Linked DNA regions of Homo sapiens. The protein of the gene in region 2 purifies or fractionates together with the protein of the main gene of each other region. This does not show direct contact. Each region holds a gene or a part of one and is shown on either strand. Other genes may lie near its edges.

Region 1 (4,151 bases), on a different chromosome or scaffold from region 2:
ACGGTAAAATGATAATTGTAGAACAGAAGTGGTGGAGATATGGGTGTTCACCGCAATTCTTTCAACTTCTTTGTGCTTTGAATTTTTCATAAAATGAGGCTGTGCATGTTGGCTCACGCCTGTAATCCCAGCACTTTGGGAGGCCAAGGTGGGTGGATCACTTGAGGTCAGAAGTTCGAGACCAGCCTGGCCAACATAGTGAAACCCCATCTCTACTAAAAATACAAAAATTAGCTGGGCGTGGCAGTGAGTGCCCGTAATCCCAGCTACTTTGGAGGCTGAGGCAGGAGGATCGCTTGAACCCGGGAAGCGGAGGTTGCTGTGAGCTAAGATCACACCACTGCACTCCAGCCTGGGCGACAGAGCGAGGCTTTGTCTCAAAATAAAAATTATTTTTTCATGAAATGTTGAGGGAAATCTCCTGCAATGATTCTTTTGTCTTTTTTGATAAAATGCAGGCTTCTCTGCCAACACTCTCGTATCCTCTCCACACACATCATCCTAAATGGGGATGTACCCTTGCTGCTCCCAGTACCTGGAACAGGAACATTCTTCTCAGTGTTCTCCAGCCCTCTATGCCCTCTTACTGTTTTATTTTTTAGACAGGGTCTTGCTCTGTCATCCAGGCTGGAGTGCAGTGTCACCATCATGGCTCACTGCAGCCTCGACCTCCCAGGTTCAAGTGATTCTCCTGCCTCAGTCTCCTGAGTATCTGGGATTACAGGTATGCGCTACCATGCACGGCTAGCGAATTTTTTATGGAGACTGGGTCTCACCATATTGCCCAAGCTGGTCTTGAACTCCTGGGCTGAAGCAATCCTCCCGCCTTCTTTAAACTCATCTCATTGATGCCTTCTCCAGGAAGCCTGTGCTGTTCCCTCAGCAAGAGGCTTCTTACCTGATCCCCCACAGCCTCTCCTACAGCTCAGCAACGGTTTATGGAATGAAAGGCCTCTCTTGAAGCTTTGCAGGCACCTGCCTGCCTGAGGTGTTAGCAAATCTGCAGACCCGCCCTGAGGCCATGTGTCTAGTTACCCTGGTCTCTGAATCACAGATGAGCTCTCATTTCTTCCCACAAATAAACCCTGTGACCCTCCACCCTCTACTCAGAGAACCCGCCCTCAGGTAGTTCCCTGTTTGTGACATACACACACTTAGCCCTGAGGCTGGACTGACAGGCCGACCTGGCTGGTGGACTCCAGCCCAAGCCTGCCAGCTGCCTGCCGGGGTGGGGGCCTTGGCGGGAGAGGACGGGGCCGGGTGGGGAGGAAGGCGGGGCCTGAGGCTGTGCGAGGCGAGTCGGTGTGTCCCTGGCTGGGACGGAAGTTGCACCACAAGTACAATTAGTTTCAGTTTTGTTTCTTTTCCAGGCACCCAGCAACGGCGGCCTCCAGGCCTCAGGCCCCCTCACCATCCTAGAGGTCAAGATCAGCTCTGGCTAGGTAAGGGGTGGGGGGCGGCACAGCTATAGGAAGGACCGAGCGGAGGGAGTAGGGGGAGGGGAGTGGAGAGAGAGCGCGGGAGGAGGAGGAAGGGAAGGAAAGGGAGGGCGTGAAGAGGCACCCGGAAGGCAGGAGGAGAGGGCAGGAGGGAAACTGCACTCGCCTCCCTCCCGCTCCGTGGCCACAGGTCCCCGCAAGAAAGACCCCGTCCCACTCTCTGAGGTCTCCTCCCAGCTCCAGAAAAGGGGACATTCCACCTAGTCTGCCCAACAAGTAGGTCTCAGCCACTGTGCCAGGAGCTCGGGACTCCCTCCCTCCAGAGGTTTCTGGAATGCATTCAGCAGGAAAAGCTAAAAGAACAGGACTCCAGGAGATAAGCCAAGGCCAAGTCTATCAGAGGGTGAGCCAGCAGCGGGAAGGGGACCAGCCCTTCCCCTAGCGTTTTTTCTGCCCGCTCCAGAATCCGCTTTAGAAACTGTTAAATGCAGAAAGTGGGGCCTCCACCACCCGCGATGCTGCCCCAGGTCTAGCAGAAGACAGGTGTAAGGCCAGGCGGGTGCGGTGGCTCATGCCTGTAATCCTAATGCTTTGGGAAGGCCGAGACGGGAGGATAGCCTGAGGCCAGGAGTTGGAGACCAGCCTGGGCAACATAGCAAGACCCCATCTCTACAAAAAGTGATAATTTTTAAAAAATGGGCTGGCTGGGCCCCTGGGCATGGTGGCTCACGCCTATAATCCCAGCACTTTGGGAGACCGAGGAGGGCGGATCACCTGAGGTCAGGAGTTCAAGACCAGCCTGGCCAATAGGGCCAAACTCCATTTCTACTAAACATACAAAAATTAGCCGGGTGTGATGGTGCGCACCTGTAATCACAGCTACTCGGGAGGCTGAGGCAGGAGAATCACTTGAACCTGGCAGGTGGAGGTGGCAGTGAGCCAAGATCGCACCACTGCACTCCAGCCTGGGCAACAGAGTGAGACTCTGTCTCAAAAAAAAAAAAAAAAAAAAAAAAGGCTGGGCATGGTGGCACATGCCTGTACTCCCAACTACTCAAAAGACTTGAGTCTAGGAGTTTGAGGCTGCAGTGAACTACGATCACGCCACTGCACTCCAGCCTGGGTGACAGAGGGTGACCCTATTGCTAAAAACTAAAATAAAATAAAAAGAAGGCAGGTGTATGGGGCTTGGAGGATTAAAGCCCCCTAAGCTACTGCAAGATCCTACCCCAACTGGCAGGACCTAGGCATCTCTGCCCACTGGGATCCCCGTCTGTGTCCTTACTGCCTGCTCCTCGCACCCTGGCACCCTATACAGCAGGACCCCAGTACCTGTGCACACAGGAGGGCTTCCACCATGTTTGCCACAAGGCCTGTGGACTGGGGACACTGAGGATTCGATTATTAGCTAAGGCCAGGGACTCCTGGTCTTGTCAGTTCTCACAGGTCTGACCCAACAAGTAGCACTGACATTTTTACGTTTGCTGGATGTACACACGGAAGTGGAGGAGGAGGAGGAGAAGGAGGAGGGCAGCTCCTTAGCTCAAGAGCAAGTGGCCCAAGGCCTCAGAAGACTAGAAGGAAGTTCCTGGCCATTCAGGTGAGACCTCAGGTTCCTTCCCGGCCATTTGGGTCAGCCCCTAGCCCTGGGGATCCGTGGGGCTTGAGGACGGGCGGTAGAAGCTAGAGGGTGAGCTGGTGAAGGTGCCTTCTCAACTCTGATCCTGACGCCTCTGCCTGCAGCATGGTTTCCCACGGGTCCTCGCCCTCCCTCCTGGAGGCCCTGAGCAGCGACTTCCTGGCCTGTAAAATCTGCCTGGAGCAGCTGCGGGCACCCAAGACACTGCCCTGCCTGCATACCTACTGCCAAGACTGCCTGGCACAGCTGGCGGATGGCGGCCGCGTCCGCTGCCCCGAGTGCCGCGAGACAGTGCCTGTGCCGCCCGAGGGTGTGGCCTCCTTCAAGACCAACTTCTTCGTCAATGGGCTGCTGGACCTGGTGAAGGCCCGGGCCTGTGGAGACCTGCGTGCCGGGAAGCCAGCCTGTGCCCTGTGTCCCCTGGTGGGTGGCACCAGCACCGGGGGGCCGGCCACGGCCCGGTGCCTGGACTGTGCCGATGACTTGTGCCAGGCCTGTGCCGACGGGCACCGCTGCACCCGCCAGACCCACACCCACCGCGTGGTGGACCTGGTGGGCTACAGGGCCGGGTGGTATGATGAGGAGGCCCGGGAGCGCCAAGCGGCCCAGTGTCCCCAGCACCCCGGGGAGGCACTGCGCTTCCTGTGCCAGCCCTGCTCACAGTTGCTGTGCAGAGAGTGCCGCCTAGACCCCCACCTGGACCACCCCTGCCTGCCTCTGGCTGAAGCTGTGCGTGCCCGGAGGCCGGGCCTGGAGGGACTGCTGGCCGGTGTGGACAATAACCTGGTGGAGCTGGAGGCAGCGCGGAGGGTGGAGAAGGAGGCGCTAGCCCGGCTGCGGGAGCAGGCGGCCCGGGTGGGGACTCAGGTGGAGGAGGCGGCTGAGGGCGTCCTCCGGGCCCTGCTGGCCCAGAAGCAGGAGGTGCTGGGGCAGCTACGAGCCCACGTGGAGGCTGCCGAAGAAGCTGCTCGGGAGAGGCTGGCGGAGCTTGAGGGCCGGGAGCAGGTGGCCAGGGCCGCAGCCGCCTTCGCCCGCCGGGTACTCAGCCTGGGGCGAGAGGCCGAGATCCTCTC
Region 2 (3,500 bases):
CTCAAAGACATCTGACTACCCATCTGTGTCTTATTTGTAAAAGGGAAATAATAAAACTGATGTGTGTGGTAAGAATTGTTACCTTGTGCTTAATAGATATTCAATTTAAAAACCAAAGTTTTGGTCTTCTGAGTACATATTCCTTCCACTTTCGCCAATTACCTTGGATTGCTTACAGAGAGTAGACAGAACTCAGTCCAATGTCTATTACATAGCAGGTTTAGAGTGAGGCTAACTGCTTATACTTGTTTCCCACCTTACAGTCTATTTCCTGAATGGAATGGAGAAGAGATTAAGAGGAGAAACACCGGTGATTTCCAAATCAGTTCACATTTTCAACCACCAGACATCAAGATATTTGTCCTAAGTTTCCATTTTTGTGTATCAAATGTTTATGACACAAACCACTTTAAAGGGTGGTAGGAGCACAGGGCATGTCAGGCAAGAGAAGAAATGACTAAGATAGTCAAGATAAGGTCTGGGCCGGGCGGGGTGGCCCACACCTCTAATCCCAGCATTTTGGGAGGCCGAGGCAGATGCATCACCTGAGGTCAGGAGTTCGAGACCAGCTAGCCAACATGGTGAAACCCTGTCTCTACTAAAAATACAAAAATTAGCTGGACATGGTGGTGCATGCCTGTAATCCCAGCTACTCAGGAGGCTGACGCACAAGAATTGCTTGAACCCAGGAGGCAGAGGTTGCAGTGAGCCAAGATCGCACCACTGCACTCCAGCCTGGGCAACAGAGCAAGACTCTGTCTCAAAAAAAAAAAAAAAAAAAAATAAGGTCTGACAAGACTTAAGATTTACTGTGAGGAGCCATGTATGCTAAACTAAGAGGTGTAACTATTTTACACATTTTGAACTTATCTTGGAATTAAAGAAACCACAAATGGTTAGTATACTAATTTGTCTTCCTTAATGTCAGTACTTGTACCATACTATTGATACTAAAAACAAATATAGTAAACTACTAAAATCTAACAGTATGTGGTCAAGACTAACAACTAGGGTTCTAATAAATAGAATGTTCATAACTCTGTCCTAGAAAATACATTTAAAATAAAGTAGCAACAGGCAAGTTGGAGATAAAAATGACACTAGCAAAGTAGGGTATGATTCTGGCTATCTTTATTATTTTATATGGTTTTCTAACACAGCTGTACACATTCACATTTGTATATATGCTTACTTTTCGCAAGCTCAGGGTTATCCCTGACTCATTCATGTTGTTCACTTAACTGCATTTAGACCATACTGGAGCTTTTGCCCTCTGAATGTATGTAAGTATGCACATTATTATGCTCCGTTAAGTCAGTTTACTGTCCCAACATGGTACTGAAACACTTCAGATTTTTTTTTTTTTTGAGACGGAGTCTTGCTTCGCCCAGGCTGGAGTGCAGTGGCACGATCTCGGCTCACTGCAAGCTCCACCTCCCAGGTTCACCCCATTCTCCTGCCTCAACCTCTCGAGTAGCTGGGACTACAGGTGCCCACCACGACGCCTGGCTACTTTTTTTTTGTATTTTTAGTAGAGACGGGGGTTTCACCGTGTTAGCCAGGATGGCCCAGATTCTTTTAATAAAAACGAACTATGGGGGCCGGGTGTGCTGGCTCACACCTGTAATCCCAGCACTTTGGGAGGCAGAGGTGGGTGGATCACCAAAGGTCGGGAGCTCAGGACCAGCCTGACCAACATGGAGAAATCCCGTCTCTACTAAAAACACAAAATTGGCCGGGTGTGGTGGCCCGTGCCTGTAGTTCCAAATACTCAGGAGGCTGAGGCAGGAGAATCGCTTGAACCCGGGAGGCAGAGGTTGCGGTGAGCCGAGATCATGCCATCGCACTCCAGCCTGGGCAACAAGAGCGAAACTCCACCTCAAAGGAAAAAAAGAAGAAAAAAAAAGCAATGAAAGGAAGCAATATACTTTCTGTATTACCTGCATTCCAGCCAGAATAATGGAAAACAGAGTACTTACTCGGGAGCAATTCTGTATTTTTATCCTGGTTCCTGAACTTACTGCTTGACCTTGGTTAATTACATCCATTTCCGCCTGCCCTGATTACTTCTTGAAGAGTTTTAACAGCTGGATATCTATGAGTCAGTCATTAGTAAACATATCTATAATCTTACAACCTCACGAGTTATGTATTCTTGCTCCATTTTAATGACAAACTAAACATCTGACACTGGCCAGGGGCAGTGGCTCATGCCTGTAATCCCAGCACTTTGGGAGGCTGAGGAGGGAAGATCACTTGAGGTCGGCAGCCTGGCCAACATAGTGACACCCCATCTCTACTAAATATACAAAAATTAACTGGGCGTGGTGGTGCATGAGGCAAGAGAATCGCTTGAACCCAGGAGGTGGAGGCTGCAGTGAGCCGAGATCATGCCATTTGCACTCCAGTGTGGGTGACAAAGCGAGACTCCGTCTCCAAAAAAAACTAAAAAAACAAAAATTAGCCGGGCGTGGTGGCACACGCCTATAGTCCCAGCTACTCAGGAGGCTGAGGCAGGAGAATGGCTTAAACCCAGGAGGCAGAGGTTGCAGTGAGCTGAGATCCTGCCATTGCACTCCCGCCTGGGCGACAGAGCAAGACTTTGTCTCCAAAAAAAAAAGAAAAGGAAAAAAAAAGTTAAGTGGTAAAGTACACAAAAATGCTATCGTAATATATGACAAAAATGCTATTGTGTAATATTTTTAAGGTAGGGAATTATACCAATTCAATCTCTACTTCAAAATATTACATAAAGGTATTACTACTATATATCTAGTAACTAAGAAAAAAAAAAGCCACGCACATTTGAATTGTAATGCTGTAAGTATTCATTCTGTATTTCTCTTTAGATAAAAATCAAAGTAAAACTAATACTGATAGCTTTTTAAAAGATCTACAGTCATAATAATTTTGAATTCATTCACACAGCTTTCTTGAATCTTAAAAAATATTTTCTTTAACTTCATGGCAGAACTTAGGAGTCTCACCAAACACACAAACACTGGCAACTTGCTTCACTAGTTAACACCTCATTTGTATTTATGGAGCCATTCCAGGTGATCACTGTAGCACTCTCATATTCCTAATTAACAAAATCCTTCTAATTACAACTTAAAATTTGGTGGCCTCAAGTTCTCACTTTATTATCTCAGTAGTTTTAAACATGAAAATGCTGCATAGCTTACTGCAATCACTCAATGGCATTCCCTTGCTGCTGCAGCATCTGACACTGCCAGAACAGGAGTTCTATTAAGTGAGACAGTAAGGAAAGAGCGTTCTCCACATAGCAGGCCAGGATGCCTTGGCATCATTCTTCTGGCTCTCTACTTACTGTCAGGAGGCTAGGAAGAGAAAAAGGAACCAATCTTTTTTTTTTTTTTTAATTTTTCATCCCTGCAAGGAAAAAAAAGCAGAATCTCTCTGTGGTCAAATCTTCAGCCAATAGACAAATCATTCCAATTAGTCCAATGGTGGTTTCACTGCTTTTAGGCACCAGTTTG
Region 3 (3,500 bases), on a different chromosome or scaffold from region 2:
TTCTGGTTGCTAGGTCTATATTTCCGCTCCCAGGCAAGTGGAGAGCCGGGTTTCTCAACCTCAGCACTACTGACGTTTTGGGCCAGATTCTGTTTAGCACTATTCCTAGCCTCAATCCACAGATGACAGGAAGCACCACCCCCCCACCAGCCCCACTGGTTGTCCTAACCCAAAATGTCTTCAGATGTTGTAAAATACCCACTGAGGTCAAAATCGTTCCTGATTGAGAACCACTGATCTAAGAGGTCTTTCTTAGAGCAGCAATTCTCAAACTTTTTGGTCAGAGGACTCCTCAACACTTAAAATGTATTCAGGATCCCAAAGAATTTCTGTTTGTGTGGAATATAGCTATCAATATTTACCATATTAAAAATTAAAACTGAGAACAATTATATATTTGATTCACTTAAAAATAAGAATAAGCTTGCTATATGTTAACATAATGAACATGTTTCATGTAACTATATTTAATACTATATACATATTCATGTATATCCATTTAATATACATACCCAGGTATATAACTGTGTGTATTTATTTACATATTTATATATAATATTTATATGGATAATTATAAAATAACTGTTTTCCAAAACAAAAAATTTATTGAGAGGAGTTTTATATTTTTGCAAATTAATGTCTGGCATAATAGAAGATAACTAGATTCTCATATCCGCTTCTTTATTCAACCTGCTGTGAAATCATATATTGTGTAGCCTCTGGAAAATTTCATCGTGTATTCCTGAGAGAATGAAAGTGAAAAAAGCAAATAATGTTTAATGTTATTATGAAAATCACTTTAACCTTGCCAATTTTCTGCAAGGGTCTCCACATTTTGATAACGATTTAAATAATAATAAATAATTTTAAAAATGGACCAAATGCGAATTTCTAACTTACTTTATAACATTGAGCCAATCAGGAGTTTTGTGGGCACAGTTTTATTTTGGGATATTTTCTGAGGGAAGAATACATTATGTAACACCATTAATTATGTGGTGCAGGCGAGTCACTTTCCTCTCTGCGTTTCCGTTTTTCTTTTATGTGTAGGACCTGGAGCCATGGAAAGAAAACTTGAAGATCTATTTTAGCCCTGAAAGTTTAATTCTGTGCTCTCATTAGGGAAGACGAGATTGTAGAAAACAGGGGTCAATGAAGCATTATGTTAACTTAATACTTTTCTCTCTCAGCTGTTCTGTAGGAAGTTATACAATCAATTTTCGGGTAATGAGTTGTGATTCCTTTCCCATCCGACGCCTCTCCACTCCTTCTTCTGTCACCAAGCCAGCCAATTCTGTCTTCACCACCAAATGGATTTGGTATTGGAAGAATGAATCTGGCACATGGATTCAGTATGGAGAAGAGGTGAGCACTGTTCCTCCTTGTAGGGGGCTCTTGTTTAAACTTGTCAACTTAAAAAGAACACTGTTGGCTGGGCACGGTGGCTCATGCCTGTAAGCCCAGCACTTTGGGAGGCTGAGGCAGGTGGATCACCTGAGATCAGGAGTTCGAGACCAGCCTGGCCAACATGGTGAAACCCCATCTCTATTAAAAATACAAAAATTAGCCAGGCGTGGTGGCAGGCGCCTATAATCCCCGCTACTCTGGAGGCTGAGGCAGGAGAATCTCTTGAACCCGGGAGGTGGAGGTTGTAGTGAGCTGAGATTTCGCCACTGCATTCCAGCCTGGGGGATGGATTGAGACTCTGTCTCCAAAATAAATAAATAAATAAAATAAAAAGAACACTATTAATAAAATGTTTGAAGCCTACATGGTTACCCGTGGAGTGTGGTAGAGGAAGTGGTATTTTTTTACTTTGTACACAGCTATATTCAATTTTTTTTCAGCAAACATGTACTCCAATTGCAGTCATACATTAAAGTATATATTAATTTTTATTTTTATTTATTTATTTATTTTTGAGATGGAGTTTCACTCTTATCACCCATGCTGGAGTGCAATGGCGTTATCTTGGCTCACTGCAACCTCCATCTCCTGGGTTCAAGCGATCTTCCTGCCTCAGCCTCCCGAGTAGCTGGGATTACAGGCATGCACCACCACCACACCCAGCTAATTTTTGTATTTTTAGTAGACATGGGGTTTCAACATGTTGGACAGGCTAGTCGTGAACTCCTGACCTCAGGTTATCCGCCCACCTCGGCCTCCCAAAGTGTTGAGATTACAGACGTGAGCCACTGCGCCCGGCCATATATTAATTATTTTTAAGGAACCGCTTGAGACATGTCAGCTGCACTTCCCTCTTTCCTCACCATGAGAGGGGAGGGTGGAACCTTGAGATAGCTTTCTATGTATAAACACATAAAATGTACAGAGACTACTGCTTTGAGCTGGAAAAGAGGGTGAGAGTGAGAACTTAAAGGACTGTATGGATGATGGCATGGTTAATTAGACCAGGGAATGTGTTAATTCACTCAAGCAGTGAAACCACATCTGGTACAGATAGTCACTACTATTCATTCAGAGTCTGGATTTAGATGGACTTAAAGGACTGGAACTAGAAGATCCTAGGCTGACCCATAGTGGGGGCATAGTAATAGGGAGGGAAGTTTAGGTGAGCAGAGCCTCTGTCCTTCTGTCTCAGTGTCCCTTCCTCCCTTTAACTCATAGGATTAAAGAGAGAGAGAAAACAGACCTTAAGCAGGTAATGGAATCAGGGTGATGAGAAACAGAAAATGAAAGCAAGAGATTAAAATGAAGCCAAAAATAATGCATGGGCTGGGTGCGGTGGCTCACTCCTGTAATCCCAGCACTTTGGGAGGCCGAGGTGGGGTGGATCACCTGAAGTCAGGAGTTCGAGACCAGCCCGGCCAACATGGTGAAACCCTGTCTCTACTAAAAATACAAAAAATTAGCTGGGTGTGGTGGCGCGTGCTTGTAATCCCAGCTACTCAGGAGTCTGAGGCAGGAGAATCGCTTGAACCTGCAGGCAGAGGTTGCAGTGAGCCGAGATTGCACCACTGCACTCCAGTCTGGGTGACAAAAGTGAGATTCCAAAAAAAAAAAGATAATGCAGGGACAAAGGAATGGCAGCGTAAGGTTCTACATATTTAGGTTGGTGTAAAATTACTTTTGGGTTGGTGGTAATTACTTTTAATGGCAAAAACTGATTACTTTTGCACGGAACTAATAATTACGAGTCAGTGGGCTATACATTTGGCTCTGAGCTGCCTAACTGCCAAAGCAAACAAAATACTTGGGAGAGGCACTACTCTGTTATGTTAGTGAGGCCTGAGAAAAACACCTCCTATAGTGGGCCACATGGCGGGAACCCTGTGTGCTGTGGTGAGGTCCTCAACCACAAACAGCCCTACCATGAATTCAGCAGCATATTGGTTTCCAAACTGTCTTAGCAGCAGATACATTTTATCAAACCATCTTTCAAAGACTCTAAACGAGCCAACTAGAGTAGAGCAGGGCTGCCCTGGTGGAATAGGATATGGGCTCAGAGCTGTCTCCTGGACCCCTCCTTGTTGCTCTTC
Region 4 (3,500 bases), on a different chromosome or scaffold from region 2:
ATTCTTTTCTCCTTTTTTAATTTAACATTGTATTGTGATAGTTCTCTACTTTTATTAGATATTCTTTGAAAACCTGATATTTACTAGCTTTTTTGGTGAATTTGTCCAGTCATGTTAATTAAATATGGGAATTACTGCCTGGATACAGTATGTACATATTTTAGTCTCTGGGTAAATGATGCCAGATTGCACTTCAGAAACTTGATAGTAGTTTTCCTTATGACCAAAACCATAAAAGAAATTAAAATGTATCTTTTTTTTAAGAATAAATTTGCAGTGTGGTTATGGAAATTTTTAGTTGTTAAATTTTATAGCTCTTTAGAAATGCAGTAACAATTTTCCTAATGAAATTCATAGGTACAAAAGTTTTTTCTGGGGGATTTGTTGCTTCAAAAATAGTGTTTATATGTTTTTAGTTATTAAATAATTTTTCATGCTGTTGCTATGGTGTACTGTAACTAGAATATATGTAGTGAATACAATTTTAATTTTTGAGTTATACTTTATATATTTGATGGATAACAAATTTCTAATTTATTGATGAACTAAAATTATGTAGTAATCAACTACTTTATCCTTTGAAAACATCCAGTGAGAACTACTAGCATCTGGGGAATACTTCAACTTGTTTGAAATACTAAATCAAACAAGTTAAAATTAATGCTGTGTGATTGTGTACTTGACTATTGTCTTCTGTTGGGCTAGAAATTAGAAGAATTCAGAAGGCAGCTAACGTTCCTATAATAAAGTGAAATATGGAATTCTCATATTTTTTATAATTCATAATTCAATATTCATATATATTTCATAATTCATAATTATAATATGAATTATAATGTTATATATTATATAACATTATATTATTATGTTATAAATATAAATATAATTCATAATTATAATTCATAATTCAATATTAAGTAAATTTTTTTGCGTGACATTCTAATTTGAATACCTTACATTAAAATGAGTAAAAACTAGAATGTTAATAGAAAATTCACAAAGGTATTAAGAGTATAACATTTTAAAATAATAAAATTATATTGTTTTAGTTCTACAGTTTGTTTATGTCAGGTAATTTAACACTAAGTACATATCTTTTTAAATCTCGAAGAGTTACTTCTAAAGGGGTGATAAGCTAACGTTACCCATGGATTTGATCCATGGATTATTTGGAATTATTAATTTCCAAATATTGGGGGTTTCTGGATATATTCTATATTCTTTTGTTCCTTTTAAATTTACTGAGACCTGTTTTATGGCCTAACATATGGTCTAAGTATTTTGAAAATAATATATTGTAGAGTTGTTTGGTGGGGTATTCTATATTTGTCAATTAGATCAAAGTAGTTGACAGTGTTCATACCATCAGTGTTTTTACTGACTTATTATTTTCTAGTTCTATCAGTTGCTGAGAGAAACATGTTAAAATTTCCAACTATACTTGTGGATTTGTCTGTTTCTCACTTACATTCAATTCTGTACCACCTTCTGTTGTATTCACCTAGAAATATTTTATGCTTGGTTATGCTTATGTGTGTCCGAGTTAAGAGAACTGAAACCAGTGATTTTGTACTAGGCACGTTGTTCTATATTTTGTCTCCTTCACTTAATTCATATTATGGGTCATTTTATTTCAATATACATACATCTGTCTACCTCACTTTTCTTAGTGACTGTAATATTTCATCGTGTGCCTATACCATAATTTATTTAACCAGTCCCCACTGTTGGGCATTTTGGTAGTTTCTAGAGTTTTTAAAATTACAATTAGTACCCCAGTGAATATATTCATATGTAAGTCTTTGTACTTACATGGAAACACGTCTGCAAGATAAATCCCTAGAACTAGAATCACTGGATCAGCTCATACCTGCATTTTAAATTTGTATAGGTGTTGTCAATTGCTCTTCAAAGAAGTTGAACCACTTTACATTCTCATCAACATAAAAGCGTGCCTGCTTTTCCCTAAACCTTTGATAAATTAGTCTATTGTCAGAGGTTTTCACCATCACCCATAGGATAAATGGCATTTCATTGTTTTAATTATTGTCCTTAATTAGTTCATAAAGCATTATTTCATACATTTAAAGACATTTGTACTTCTGTTTTAGTGTGATCTGACTCTTCATGTTCTTTTTTTTTTTTTTTTTTTGAGACAGAGTCTTGCTCTGTCGCCCAGGCTGGAGTGCCGTGGCGCGATCTGGGCTCACTGCAAGCTCCGCCTCCCAGGTTCACGCCATTCTCCTGCCTCAGCCTCCTGAGTAGCTGGGACTACAGGCGCCCACCACCATGCCCAGCTAATGTTTTGTATTAGTAGTAGAGATGGGGTTTCACCCTGTTAGCCAGGATGGTCTCGATCTCCTGACCTCGTGATCCACCAGCCTCAGCTTTCCAAAGTGCTGGGATTACAGGCGTGAGCTACCGCACCTGGCTTTGCCCATTTTTAGTTGGTTGTTGGTCTTTGTATAGTAAGACCTTTGTTGTTTGTCTTCAGTTTGTCTTTTTGACTTTACAGTTAGCAACTTCGTTATTGTTTCTAATTGAAATTGTATTATCTGTGATATTTATCAGATCTGGCTCTGAATGATTGTGGGCTATTATCAAAAATCAAATTCCTATCAGAGTTTGAAACAATTATATCAACATCCAGGATACTCATGCCACAAGCTCTGGAAACAGGTTTTTGTTTTCTTTTGTTTTTGTTCTTAACATAAAGTAGGTGTTCTTTAAATGTTTGGAACAGTATTAGCATCATGGAAATAATTTTATTTCAAAAGATGAGTGTTGTGAAAGCCACATGTGTATTTCTGTGATCTCATGCAGCTATACTTTTTTTAAAGTAATGATTTTTATATCATTCTCATTCAGTGTATAATTATACTCTTCTAGTTTATTTTTTCATATTTATATTCTAATTTTGTGAGATCACTTTAAAGAAATTGAGCAATATAGAAAAGAAAATTAAAAATCATTTGTATAACCCAGAGATGACTATTACAATGCCTTGCCTTCCAGGATTTTCTGTGTACATGTATTATGTATATCGTGTGTGTGTGTGTATGTGTGTAAAATTGTATGAGTTTATATTTTCTTTTTCATGATTGGAGTATCATATATGTGTTTATATATGTAGGTTTTTTGAAGTTAATCTTATAACTTGAACTTTTAAGTATAATTTTCAAGTAGCTATTCATTAACAGTAACCTATGTAAATAGGTATTAGTTTTAGACTATTTGGTAATGAATAATGTGCTTTAAAAAAAAATCAACCTTACCTCTAGAATATAATTAATGAGGTCGTGATAAGAGAGGAAGTTCATTAAAATGGCTTTTATTCATCTTGTTATGTTAGACAAGTTGTCAATGTAGGTAATCTTTTTTTTTTTTTTTTTTTGAGCGGAGTCTCGCTCTACCTTTATGAAGATATTCCATGTGTGAAATAAGAGGGAAGATCTATGCACTTGTTTTTAACCTTTGCTGGCTTCCAATTCTTGCAGGGC
Region 5 (4,122 bases), on a different chromosome or scaffold from region 2:
AGATCGTGCCACTGCACTCCAGCCTGTGCGACAGAGCGAGACTCCATTACAAAAAAAAAAAAAAAAAAAAGGAAAAAAATTAATTAAACCCATCCAACAAGAGAAAGGAGAAGTATCTCCTAAACATGCCTAGAACATCTCTGGAAGGTTCCAGGAGACACTGGTAAGGGTACCTCTGGGGAGGCGGGTGGAGTGGGAGGAAGACATTACAAAGCAAACCTGTCCTACCCAAGGGCCGCGTGCGGCCCTGGAGGCCAGGCTTTGAATACAGCCCAACACGAATTCGTAAACTTCCTTAAAGCATTACGAGATTTTTTTTAGATTTTTTTTTTAAAGCTCGTCGGCTATCATTAGTATTAGTTTTATATATGGGCCCAGGCAATTCTTCTTCCAGTGTGGCCCACGGAAGCCAAAAGATTGGACTCCCCTGTTCTAAGGTATTCCATTTGTCAGTTATCCAGCCTCCACTCCTAACCTGTTTGTTTAGCGACAAGGTCTCACTCTACTGCCTACGCTGGAGTGCAGTGGCGCGGATCAGAACTCACCGAGCCTCGAATTCCTCAAGATCCTCCATCCTCCGCCTCCCAAGTAGCCGGGACTACAGGCGCGCACCACCACGCCGGCTAATGTTTATAATTTTTGGAGAGACGGAGTCTCGTATATGCACGGACTGGTCTCCAACTCCTGGAATCCCTCCGCCTCGGCCTCCCAGAGCGCTGGGATTCCAGACGCCAGCCACGCGCACGACCAGCCACGCTTATTTGTACAGGATCTTACCTCCCGCCTCTCTGCGAGACCAGAAGCTCCTAAGAGACTGGCCCAGACTCATCTTTCGGTCCCTCATGCTGCTTAACGTGGCAGGTCGGGTGGCTCCGGGTGGCTCCCGTGCCTTATATTTCAGGGACTCCTCACCAGCCTGGGGTTGGCGTCGCCTAAAGTCAACGGGCAGGTGGGCAGTGGAGCCAGGATTCCGCGCTCTGCCCATGCCACGCGCGGCCTTCCCGGAGGCGGGGACCGTGGAGTGTGGAGGACCCCACTGGGCCTCCTGACGGGACTCTTCTCTCGCCTCAAGGCGCTTTCTTGATTTCTATCTAGTAAGAGTGAGAGGACACCCAAGCTACTCCCCACAGCTCATGGAAAGCTGGAGAAAAGCGGAAGAGCAGGTGCCTCCTCAAAGAAGGGATTCTGACAGCAGCCACTGCCCCGGAGAGCGAAACCCCACGCTCTCCCGGAAATGACGCACAGAGGCTCGGTTCCCGCCCCCTCGCTTCCGGGGCCGGGCTTGCTCGCGCGTGCGCACCAGAAGCCAGCAGTGGGGTTGCACACGCGCCTCTTCACGAGGTGGAAACAAGATGGAGGATTCGGCCTCGGCCTCGCTGTCTTCTGCAGCCGCTACTGGAACCTCCACCTCGACTCCAGCGGCCCCGACAGCACGGAAGCAGCTGGATAAAGAACAGGTGAGTGGTTCCTGGGGAGGGTGGCTTGGAAGCAGTGTGGCGGTTACCTCGTGAGGCGCAGGGTGCCGGAACCCGAGTGCGTGCTCGGCGGACTTCCCCGGGGCTGTGGGACGGTCGCTGGCGGGCCGTGTGCCTCAGCTGTCTCTCCCCTTTACACACGTGGGTGGGCGCCTGCTTTCCCTGGTCCTGCGGCCTGGCGCTAGTGAATTGGGTTGCAAGTGTGCTGTGGAGCTAGATGAGATAGACCTGGCGACCTGGCTTAGCTTCCCTATCATTAGCGCTTGACCGAATCGCTTAGTTTTGCAGGTCTGTTACCCGTTATTTAAAGTGGGCCCTTCGGCTCCCCGTTATCCAGGATCGGGAGAGGTAATGAGTGTAAAGCGCTTTGGCCTGGTACATGGTAAGAAGGTGCTCAGTAGGCCGGGCGCGGTGGCTCACGCCTGTAATCCCAGCACTTTTGGAGGCCGAGGCGGGTGGATCACCTGAGGTCAGGAGTTCGATACCAGCCTGGCCAACATGGTGAAACCCCGTCTCTACTAAAAATACAAAAATTAGGTGGGCGTGGTGGCGGGCGCCTGTAATCTCAGCTACTCGGGAAGCTGAGGCAGGAGAATTGCCAGGAGTTCTCAGTAAATGCTAAATGCATTTTGCTTTGCGTTTTTCCTGGGATTACTGCTTTCATCATTGAGGGCAGGAGGGGCACGTTTCCCTCTAGCCCAATCTCTTTAAGTAGAAGAGGTGCCCTTCTGCACACAGTACTGGAAGTGGGTACTTAGGCATGTTTGATGGATTCTTAGATTTCTGTGAATATAAACTGCAGGATCCTAATAGATACGGTTATGGAGGTTACCCCTTGAAATAGAAGTTGGAAGGGAAAAAATAGAAGGTGTGGGAGGGGGCAAATGCTAAATTAGATTGAGAACATTTCATTTATTTGTGTAAGTTATTGTGAAAACATTTCACTTATTTGTCTAATTTCCACTTTGCAGGTTAGAAAGGCAGTGGACGCTCTCTTGACGCATTGCAAGTCCAGGAAAAACAATTATGGGTTGCTTTTGAATGAGAATGAAAGTTTATTTTTAATGGTGGTATTATGGAAAATTCCAAGTAAAGAACTGAGGGTCAGATTGTAAGTTGTGATTTTCTACCTTTGCTGTTTTTATCTGTGTGTTTATTCTTTGTAACTCGAACAATTGCATCATGGTTACTAATGGAAACTTTGCAAACTTATAATAAAAATCTGACGTGAAGTAAAACAACTATGTCCAAAAGAACCATAGAGGCTTGATGTGGTGGCTCACACCTGTAATCCCAGCACTTTGGGAGGCCGAGGTGGACGGATCACCTGAGGTCGGGAGTTCAAAACCAGCCTGGCCAACATGGTAAAACCCTGTCTCTCCAAAAATACAAAAATTAGCCAGGCATGATGGCGGGTGCCTGTAATCTCAGCTACTCGGGAGGCTGAGGCAGGAGAGTGGCAGTGAGCGGAGATGTCTCCATTGCACTCCAGCCTAGGCGACAGAGCAAGACTCTGTCTCAAAAAAATAAAAAATAATAAAAAATAAAAGAACCGTAGAAATTCAGATGTGCTAAAATTTTCTAGAAATTTCACCAGTTTTCTTAGAGCTTGGTGGACAGCTAACGTAATCAGGTCTGTTGAATCGAAAACGTGGTGTTCGAAAGAATAAAGGTGGAATAAGTTAAACAGCTTTATTTTATTTTATTTTTTTATTAGAAACTGTTATCTTTCCATGTCAAGCAAAAATTCTTTGGGGCTACAATTTATTCCTTTGTACAGAGACTATTAAAAACTGCAGTGAATTTCTGTCTATGGAAAAGAAATCCATGGTGATTATACAGAATGCTTCTTCAGAACATAGGTTGTAAGCATAAGAAATGAGTTAAACCCTTGTATTTTATTTTCTGTAAGATGTGGCATAATTGTGTTTGCTGGTCCCTCTTGGTTTAGTCCATGTTTTTGGTTTCGATTCTTTTATCTCTCCTTTTTTTTTTTTTTTTAAGAGACGAGATCTTGCGCTGTTGCCCAGCTGGAGTACAATAGTGAGATCTGTGTTCACTGCAACCTCAACCTCCCTGACCTGACTCAAGTGATCCTCCCACCTCAGCCTTCCAAGTAGCTGGGACTACAGGTGCACACCACCATGCCTAGCTAATTTTGAAATCTTTGTGGAGATGAGGTTTCACTGTGTTCTCCAGGCTGGTCTCGAACTCAGGCTCAAGCAGTCCTCCCTCTCAGTCTCCCAAAGTGTTGGGATTACAGGCATGAGCCTCCATGCCTGGGCTGTTTCAATTCTTAAAAGTTATGTTATGCTGGGCATGGTGACTCATCCCTGTAATCTCAGCACTTTGGGAGGTGAGGTGGGTGGATCATTTGAGGCCTGGGAGTTTGAGATCATCCTGACCCAACATGGCGAAATCCCATGTCTCCTAAAAATACAAAAATTAGCCAGACATGATGGTGGGCGTCTGTAATCCCAGCTGTTTGGGAGGCTGAAGTGCAAGAATCATTTGAACCCAGGAGGCAGAGGTTGCAGAGACTCCAGCCTGGGCGACAGTGAGACTCCCATCTCAAAAAAAAAAAAAAAAGTTATGTTGGCTGAGTGTGGTGGCTCACACTGTAATCTCAGCAGTTTGGGAGGCTGAG
Region 6 (3,500 bases), on a different chromosome or scaffold from region 2:
CTTTAGGTTTGTGAAATGAAGAACTGTAATAAATGCATCTATTTTGAAGCTAAGAAAAAACAGGATCTCTATATGTGGTAAGAGAATGTATTAAGATTTTGGTTAAACTCATTTAAGTGGATTTGTTCTTTGTACCTTTTATGTTATAGACTCCTAGTGTTTCATGTTAAGGGTTGAGAATGAAGCAAACTTTTGATTTCACGAAACTTGATACCTTTAAAGAAAATTAAATGTATAAATATTATAAGCATATTATTTATGGTGAATAGGTGGTAAGCATTGACTACATTTGCTAATTAGTTGAAAAAGCTTACTCCATATCTTTCAGGCTTTCAAATTCACCTCACGGACCATCTGCTAAATTCCTTGTTCAAAATAGTAAGTTGACTCAATAAATTTTTTTAGATGAGGAAATTAAAAGTAATCTTTTGAAATAGTTGTGCAAAAGTTACAACTATTTTTGTTTTTGTTGTAATTTTTCTAGTTCATACCCTCGCTGAACTGAAGATGACTGGAAACTGTTTGAAAGGTTCTCGGCCCCTTTTGTCTTTTGACCCTGTAAGTTTCTCATTCAGTGTATGAGGTCTAATTTTCTTATCTGGCATGGTTGTTTTTAGTAGATATAGTTGTGTTATTCAATTTAGTTTCACCCCCACCTTGGTTTTATGGATTATCAATTCTTTCAGGTACATTTATAATGAGGTTATAGCCAAGTTATAGAAACAAATGAGCAAACAGTTTTAAACAAGGCAGTCTACTGTTAAATAATATGCTTACCTTATTTTTATAGGCTTTTGATGAATTACCACATTATGCTTTGTTAAAAGAACTCTTAATTCAGGTAAATATCTTTAAAATTAGCTATCCAAAATATACATGATATATCTTGGAATAAGGAACTAACATACACTTTTTTAACTAGATCTTTAGTACACCACGGTATCATCCCAAAAGCCAACCATTTGTGGACCACGTGTTTACTTTCACCATTTTGGATAATAGGATATGGTTTCGGAACTTTCAGGTAAGCTTTACTTGATTTTTAATTATACCTTTTTTTTAATTGAGTTTATTTATTTATGTTTTGAGACAGAGTCTCGCTCTTGTTGCCCAGGCTGGACTGCAGTGGCACAATCTTGGCTCACTGCAACCTCCACCTCCCGGGTTCAAGCTTCTGCTCCCTCAGTCTCCTGAGTAGCTGGGATTACAAGCACCCATCATCACGCCTGGCTAATTTTTGTAGTTTTAGTAGAGACGGGGTTTCGCCATGTTGGCCAGGCTGGTCTCAAACTCCTGACCTCAGGCCATCTGCCCGCCTTGGCCTCCCAAAGTGCTGGGATTCCAGGCGTGAGCCACTACACCCGGCCTAATTTTTTTTTTTAGAGATAGAGTGTCGCAGTGTTGCCTAGGTTGGCCTTGAACCTCCTGGCCTCAAATCATTCCTCCTCAGCATCTTGAGTAGGTGGGATTGCAGTTGTGAGCCACTGTGCCTGGTCAATTTTTAGTTAAACTTTTAGATAAGGATATACAGGGTTTGCATACACAAAAAATGCAAATAATTCTTTTGTTTTAAATAGCTTCCTTTTCCCTAAAGAGATTGCTGCAAGTAACTATGTACTGTCTTATATCTTAAGTGAGCTCTACCTACTTCTATTCATGACTGTTAGTTGATACAGAGTATGGATTTCCTAATAAGCCATTATATATTTAACTTTATAGAAAGGGAATAACTTGAAGATCCATGAGATACTTGGGTTCCTAATTTGTAGAAAGTGCTGTAAAGGATACAGTAAAATAGAAGTTTCTCTCTCAAAGCTTAGAAGTTTCTCTCTCAAAGCACCTCAAAGGTTAAGACCTAGCAAAATGTAATTGCTCTAGAAGGCATTCAATGGCAGCGGTTAGATGATGAGTCACACAGTGACTCATTCAGGAGAAAAGAGGAGGTGACTCTAGAAATCTTGAAGCAGGAGTTTGGCACGATAAGTGCAGAAAGATGAAGAGGTGGAAGAGAACAGCAAGAACAAAATTTTAGACAGTATATGACATAAACTGAGCTCTTTTCTGCATATTTTATATTGGATACCTGGCATGTGAGTTGAACACATCATCCTAACCTCTGAGGGTAGACATGCCTGAACTAATAGATAACATAAATATTTGTTGTTCGGAAGTTGCCTTTTAATTCCATAATCAGTAGCTATTAAATAAATTTGACTACATATCCTTTTAATCTAACTTGAATTAGATTTATAAAAACAATTTAGGGATTGATTTAAGTTTCAAGAGTTCCCCCATAATGTGCTTTAATACATTTTGTTAATAGTGGTTACTGTTTTAAAATCCTGTTTAACCAGTTTTTCAAGGATATATGCATTGTGACAAGCAAGATGTGAACCAAAATCTAATTACTCAATTTTAAAAGAACTCACTGAAAAAACATTTTTCCATGACAACTTCCTATAAGTACTAATAGATTTCAGAAAATATTGATGATTTGCCATTTACCAAGTTTCACCCCCACCTTGATTTTATGGATTATCAATTATTTCAGGCACATTTATAATGAGGTTATAGCCAGTATACCTTTTGGGAATAACGTAACCAAACCAAAATGAAATGTTTCCTTTTTATTAAAGATCATAGAAGAAGATGCTGCTCTTGTAGAAATAGGACCTCGTTTTGTCTTAAATCTCATAAAGATTTTCCAGGGAAGTTTTGGAGGACCAACTTTATATGAAAATCCTCACTACCAGTCACCAAACATGGTAAGCGGTTGTGTCATTCAGTAGTCTTCAATGTACCAGAACCCTTTGGCCAAAATGATTCTGTGAAGTAATTGCTGTTTTATTACCTGTGAAACTGAATTTGGTTTTTGCTGCATAGAAACTTGGAAATTACTCCCTTTTTTCATGACACTGGCTGAAAGGATATATGGTTCATAACTGAAAGTCTTTGCCTTATATAAAATGTTTATTTTTATTTCAAAAGCATCTAATCTTTTTTTTTTTTTTTTAGCATCGGCGTGTCATAAGATCCATCACAGCTGCAAAATACAGAGAGAAACAGCAAGTGAAAGATGTGCAAAAACTGAGAAAGAAAGAGCCGAAGACTCTTCTTCCACATGATCCCACTGCAGATGTTTTTGTAACACCAGCTGAGGAGAAACCAATAGAAATACAGTGGGTAAAACCAGAGCCAAAAGTTGATTTGAAAGCAAGAAAGAAACGGATTTACAAAAGGCAAAGAAAAATGAAACAGAGGATGGACAGTGGGAAAACAAAATAAGTCAATGGAAACCTGATTTGTTTTTCAGTTACTTTATATTTATTTTGTATTCAATGTGTAAATACTTTTATTATCTAATACTATCTTACGTCTAATTAGTGTAGCATTTACAAGAAAGAAAAATTAAGATCTTAAAATCAGTGATTATCTTTTTCTAAATAAAATATCACCAGAATTCATCAGTTAATTTCTGATTTCTTTTTGAAGTTTGTGTT
Region 7 (2,811 bases), on a different chromosome or scaffold from region 2:
GAGAGGGTGTCATGGTGGGAAGCCATTGGAGGTTTTGAGTTAGCAGCTGGATTCTAGGGTCATTCTGGATGTCCGTATCACTGCTGTCTTGGGACCCTGTGTGGAAACACTGGCATTGTCTTCAGCCCTTCCTCCGTATGTAGTCAGTAAGTGTAGATAAGTAGTTCAGATAATTCTTAAGAACTATTGTAACCATAATAGATTTGTTGCCCAATGCACACAGCAAGTCAATATGCTGAGACACCACCAGGTTGCAGCAGAGAAAGAAGTTTAACCGTAGGGTCACCAAAGGAGGAGATGGGAGGAATCCTGAAATCATTTCCACGAGGAGTTTGGGGTTAGGGTTTTAAGGGTTTTGGAGTGGGCTGGAGTGAGGGTCATTGGTTGGGTGAAGAGTGCAGGGTGAAGTCACGGACAGGGAGATGAAGAAGCTGTGTTCTCATGCAGATCCCGTTTCTCTGGGGATCTTCAAACTGGTTGCTGGAATTAGGGATCTGAAAAGACATTTTAAGCAATCCTTAAACAAAAACCTTATGATTCTAATGTCAGAGATCTTGCCTATAGGAACAATGGGGGTGCATATCAATTCTTACATAGTCTTATGACCCAAATGTCAGAAATCCTATCTATAGGGACAGTGGGGATGCAAATGGTCAGTACCTAGTGTTCAGGAACTTTTAGCAACAAGGATATGGGCCAAAGTGCCCCCTAATTAGTGCTTAATTATAATTGTATTTCTGTCCAGAACTTGGCAGATACTTCTTGTCAACCCTTTGGAGGCAGTTTCACTCTCATATGCCTTACTCTGTGATTCTGTTTTTCTTTTTTGGTTAAGAGCAGAAACCCCTTCAGAAACTGAAAGCCAAAAATTGCCCTTCCTAGAAAAATGTATGTATAAATTTTGTGTGTGGTTTCCTGAATTTTATAGTTCTGTACTTATTTAGTGATTTGCCCGGCCACTCTTGACTTTAGAACATCACTTTTAAGTTCTCTGAGTTTTTGTTGCAAGGATAAAATGATATTATACATGTGAAACACCAGTAGAAAGCTTGGCACATACTTATCTTTGCGGTTACCTAAAACAGGCCAGTCATTTCAGGGTCCCCAGACTTAGTTCTCTAATGAACTCTCTTCAATCACAGAATTCCCCCTCCTTACCTTATACTCTTGCTTCAGGATGCCTCCTATCTTAGTCTGTTTTGTGATGATGCAACAGAATACTACAGATTGGGTAATTATAATGAACAGAAATTGTTTTGGCTCATGTTTCTGGAGGCTGGGAAGTCCAGTATCAAGGCACCAGCATCTGACAAGGGTCATCCCATCGTGGAAAGTGGGAGGACAAGAGCAAGCAAGAGAGGGTCAAACTTGCTTTTATAACAAACTCACTCTTTTTTTTTTTTTTTTTGAGACGGAGTCTTGCTCTGTTGCCCAGGCTGGAGTGCAGTGGCACGATCTCGGCTCATTGCAACCTCTGCTTCCTGGGTTCAAGTGATTCTCCTGCCTCAGCCTCCTGAGTAGCTGGGACTACAGGCATATGCCACCAGGCCCAGCTAATTTTTGTATTTTTAGTAGAGATGGGGTTTCACCATGTTGGCCAAGCTGGTCTTGAACTCCTGACCTTGTGATCTGCCCACCTTGGCCTCCCAAAGTGCTGGGATTACAGACGTGAGCCACCACATCCGGCCAACAGACTCACTCTTAAAAACGAACCCATCCCCGAGATCCATTAGTCCATTCATGGGGATGGAGCCCTCATGATCTAATTACCTCTTATTAGGCCTTACCTACCAACACTTGCTGCATTGGGGATTAAGTTTCTGTATCAGTCCATTTTCATACTGCTATGAAGAAATACATGAGACTGGTTAGTTTATAAAGAAAAAGAGGTTTAATGGACTCACAGTTCCACATGGCTGGGGAGGTTTCACAATCATGGCGGAAGGTGAAGGAGGAACAAAGGCATGTCTTACATGGCATCAGGCAAGAGTGTGTGTCCAGGGAAACTGCCCTTTATAAAACCATCAGCTCTCGTGAGACTTAATTCATCATAGGAGCGGCATGGGAAAGACCTGCCCCCATAATTCAATTACCTCCCACCCGGTCCTTCCCACAACACATGGGGATTATGGGAGCTACAAATCAAGATGAGATTTGGACACAGCCAAACCATACCAGTTTCCAACATATGAATTTTGGGGGACACATTTAAATCAGAGGACCTCCTCAAATGCCTCTCTTAGTACTGTTCTCATCTGTAACATCCAGCCTGGCCTTCATTTTTATGTAGTTGTGTGTGCTGATTTTGCATGTGCTTATATCAGCAGCCCCCTAGGGAAGGTCTAGGGAGCCTTGCTTTTCTATGATAAATCATTGGTTGGTTTTAATGGTTTAAATAGTCTTAGTTGGTTCATCCTGTGGAACTACACATGTATTCCTTTGATCCTAGTACTGATCTCTGGGCTTAATGTACATTGGTTTAAAAATACATTAATGAAATGACTCAAATTTGGGTGTTTTCAATACCTTCCCTTAGTCCTGAGAAGAGGACTGTTTAAGAGCAAGATATGAGTTCAGAAATTCCATTTTTCATTTTCTGATTCTATTTATTTCCCCCATTTCCACCCCTTAATAGCTTCTACCCTCCTCATCTTTGGAAGTTGTCCCAGAAGCAGCCCAGAACAATCCAGGGGAGGAAGTCACAGAAACTGCAGGTGAAGGGTCAGAATCCATCATTAAGGAAGAAACAGAAGAGAACAGTCACTGTGATGCTAACACAGAGATGCAGCAGATTCTCACACGAGTTCGGCA

What was found.
Region 1: the proteins of CNBP (region 2) and TRIM56 purify together in Homo sapiens (co-immunoprecipitation; 3 studies listed by BioGRID and IntAct, with this or other methods). This does not show direct contact.
Region 3: the proteins of CNBP (region 2) and ZC3HAV1 purify together in Homo sapiens (affinity purification with mass spectrometry; 2 studies listed by BioGRID and IntAct, with this or other methods). This does not show direct contact.
Region 4: the proteins of CNBP (region 2) and PUM3 purify together in Homo sapiens (affinity purification with mass spectrometry; 2 studies listed by BioGRID and IntAct, with this or other methods). This does not show direct contact.
Region 5: the proteins of CNBP (region 2) and RSL1D1 purify together in Homo sapiens (affinity purification with mass spectrometry; 2 studies listed by BioGRID and IntAct, with this or other methods). This does not show direct contact.
Region 6: the proteins of CNBP (region 2) and BRIX1 purify together in Homo sapiens (affinity purification with mass spectrometry; 3 studies listed by BioGRID and IntAct, with this or other methods). This does not show direct contact.
Region 7: the proteins of CNBP (region 2) and GNL2 purify together in Homo sapiens (affinity purification with mass spectrometry; 2 studies listed by BioGRID and IntAct, with this or other methods). This does not show direct contact.

Annotation. Positions count from the first base shown.
Region 1 is NC_000007.14:101,084,130-101,088,280, forward strand, and holds the start of TRIM56 (E3 ubiquitin-protein ligase TRIM56), read left to right. Parts: upstream 1-1,351; 5' UTR 1,352-1,442; intron 1,443-2,876; 5' UTR 2,877-3,039; intron 3,040-3,182; 5' UTR 3,183-3,183; coding exon 3,184-4,151.
Region 2 is NC_000003.12:129,177,397-129,180,896, forward strand, and holds part of CNBP (CCHC-type zinc finger nucleic acid binding protein), read right to left. Parts: intron 1-3,500. UniProt on the Homo sapiens protein: Single-stranded DNA-binding protein that preferentially binds to the sterol regulatory element (SRE) sequence 5'-GTGCGGTG-3', and thereby mediates transcriptional repression. Has a role as transactivator of the Myc promoter.
Region 3 is NC_000007.14:139,071,721-139,075,220, reverse strand, and holds part of ZC3HAV1 (zinc finger CCCH-type antiviral protein 1), read left to right. Parts: intron 1-1,190; coding exon 1,191-1,365; intron 1,366-3,500.
Region 4 is NC_000009.12:2,820,096-2,823,595, reverse strand, and holds part of PUM3 (pumilio homolog 3), read left to right. Parts: intron 1-3,497; coding exon 3,498-3,500. UniProt on the Homo sapiens protein: Inhibits the poly(ADP-ribosyl)ation activity of PARP1 and the degradation of PARP1 by CASP3 following genotoxic stress. Binds to double-stranded RNA or DNA without sequence specificity. Involved in development of the eye and of primordial germ cells.
Region 5 is NC_000016.10:11,848,743-11,852,864, reverse strand, and holds the start of RSL1D1 (ribosomal L1 domain-containing protein 1), read left to right. Parts: upstream 1-1,322; 5' UTR 1,323-1,352; coding exon 1,353-1,457; intron 1,458-2,446; coding exon 2,447-2,586; intron 2,587-4,122. UniProt on the Homo sapiens protein: Regulates cellular senescence through inhibition of PTEN translation. Acts as a pro-apoptotic regulator in response to DNA damage.
Region 6 is NC_000005.10:34,922,211-34,925,710, forward strand, and holds part of BRIX1 (ribosome biogenesis protein BRX1 homolog), read left to right. Parts: intron 1-6; coding exon 7-77; intron 78-328; coding exon 329-378; intron 379-484; coding exon 485-558; intron 559-790; coding exon 791-841; intron 842-922; coding exon 923-1,024; intron 1,025-2,636; coding exon 2,637-2,765; intron 2,766-3,015; coding exon 3,016-3,285; 3' UTR 3,286-3,500. UniProt on the Homo sapiens protein: Required for biogenesis of the 60S ribosomal subunit.
Region 7 is NC_000001.11:37,569,127-37,571,937, reverse strand, and holds part of GNL2 (nucleolar GTP-binding protein 2), read left to right. Parts: intron 1-2,635; coding exon 2,636-2,811. UniProt on the Homo sapiens protein: GTPase that associates with pre-60S ribosomal subunits in the nucleolus and is required for their nuclear export and maturation.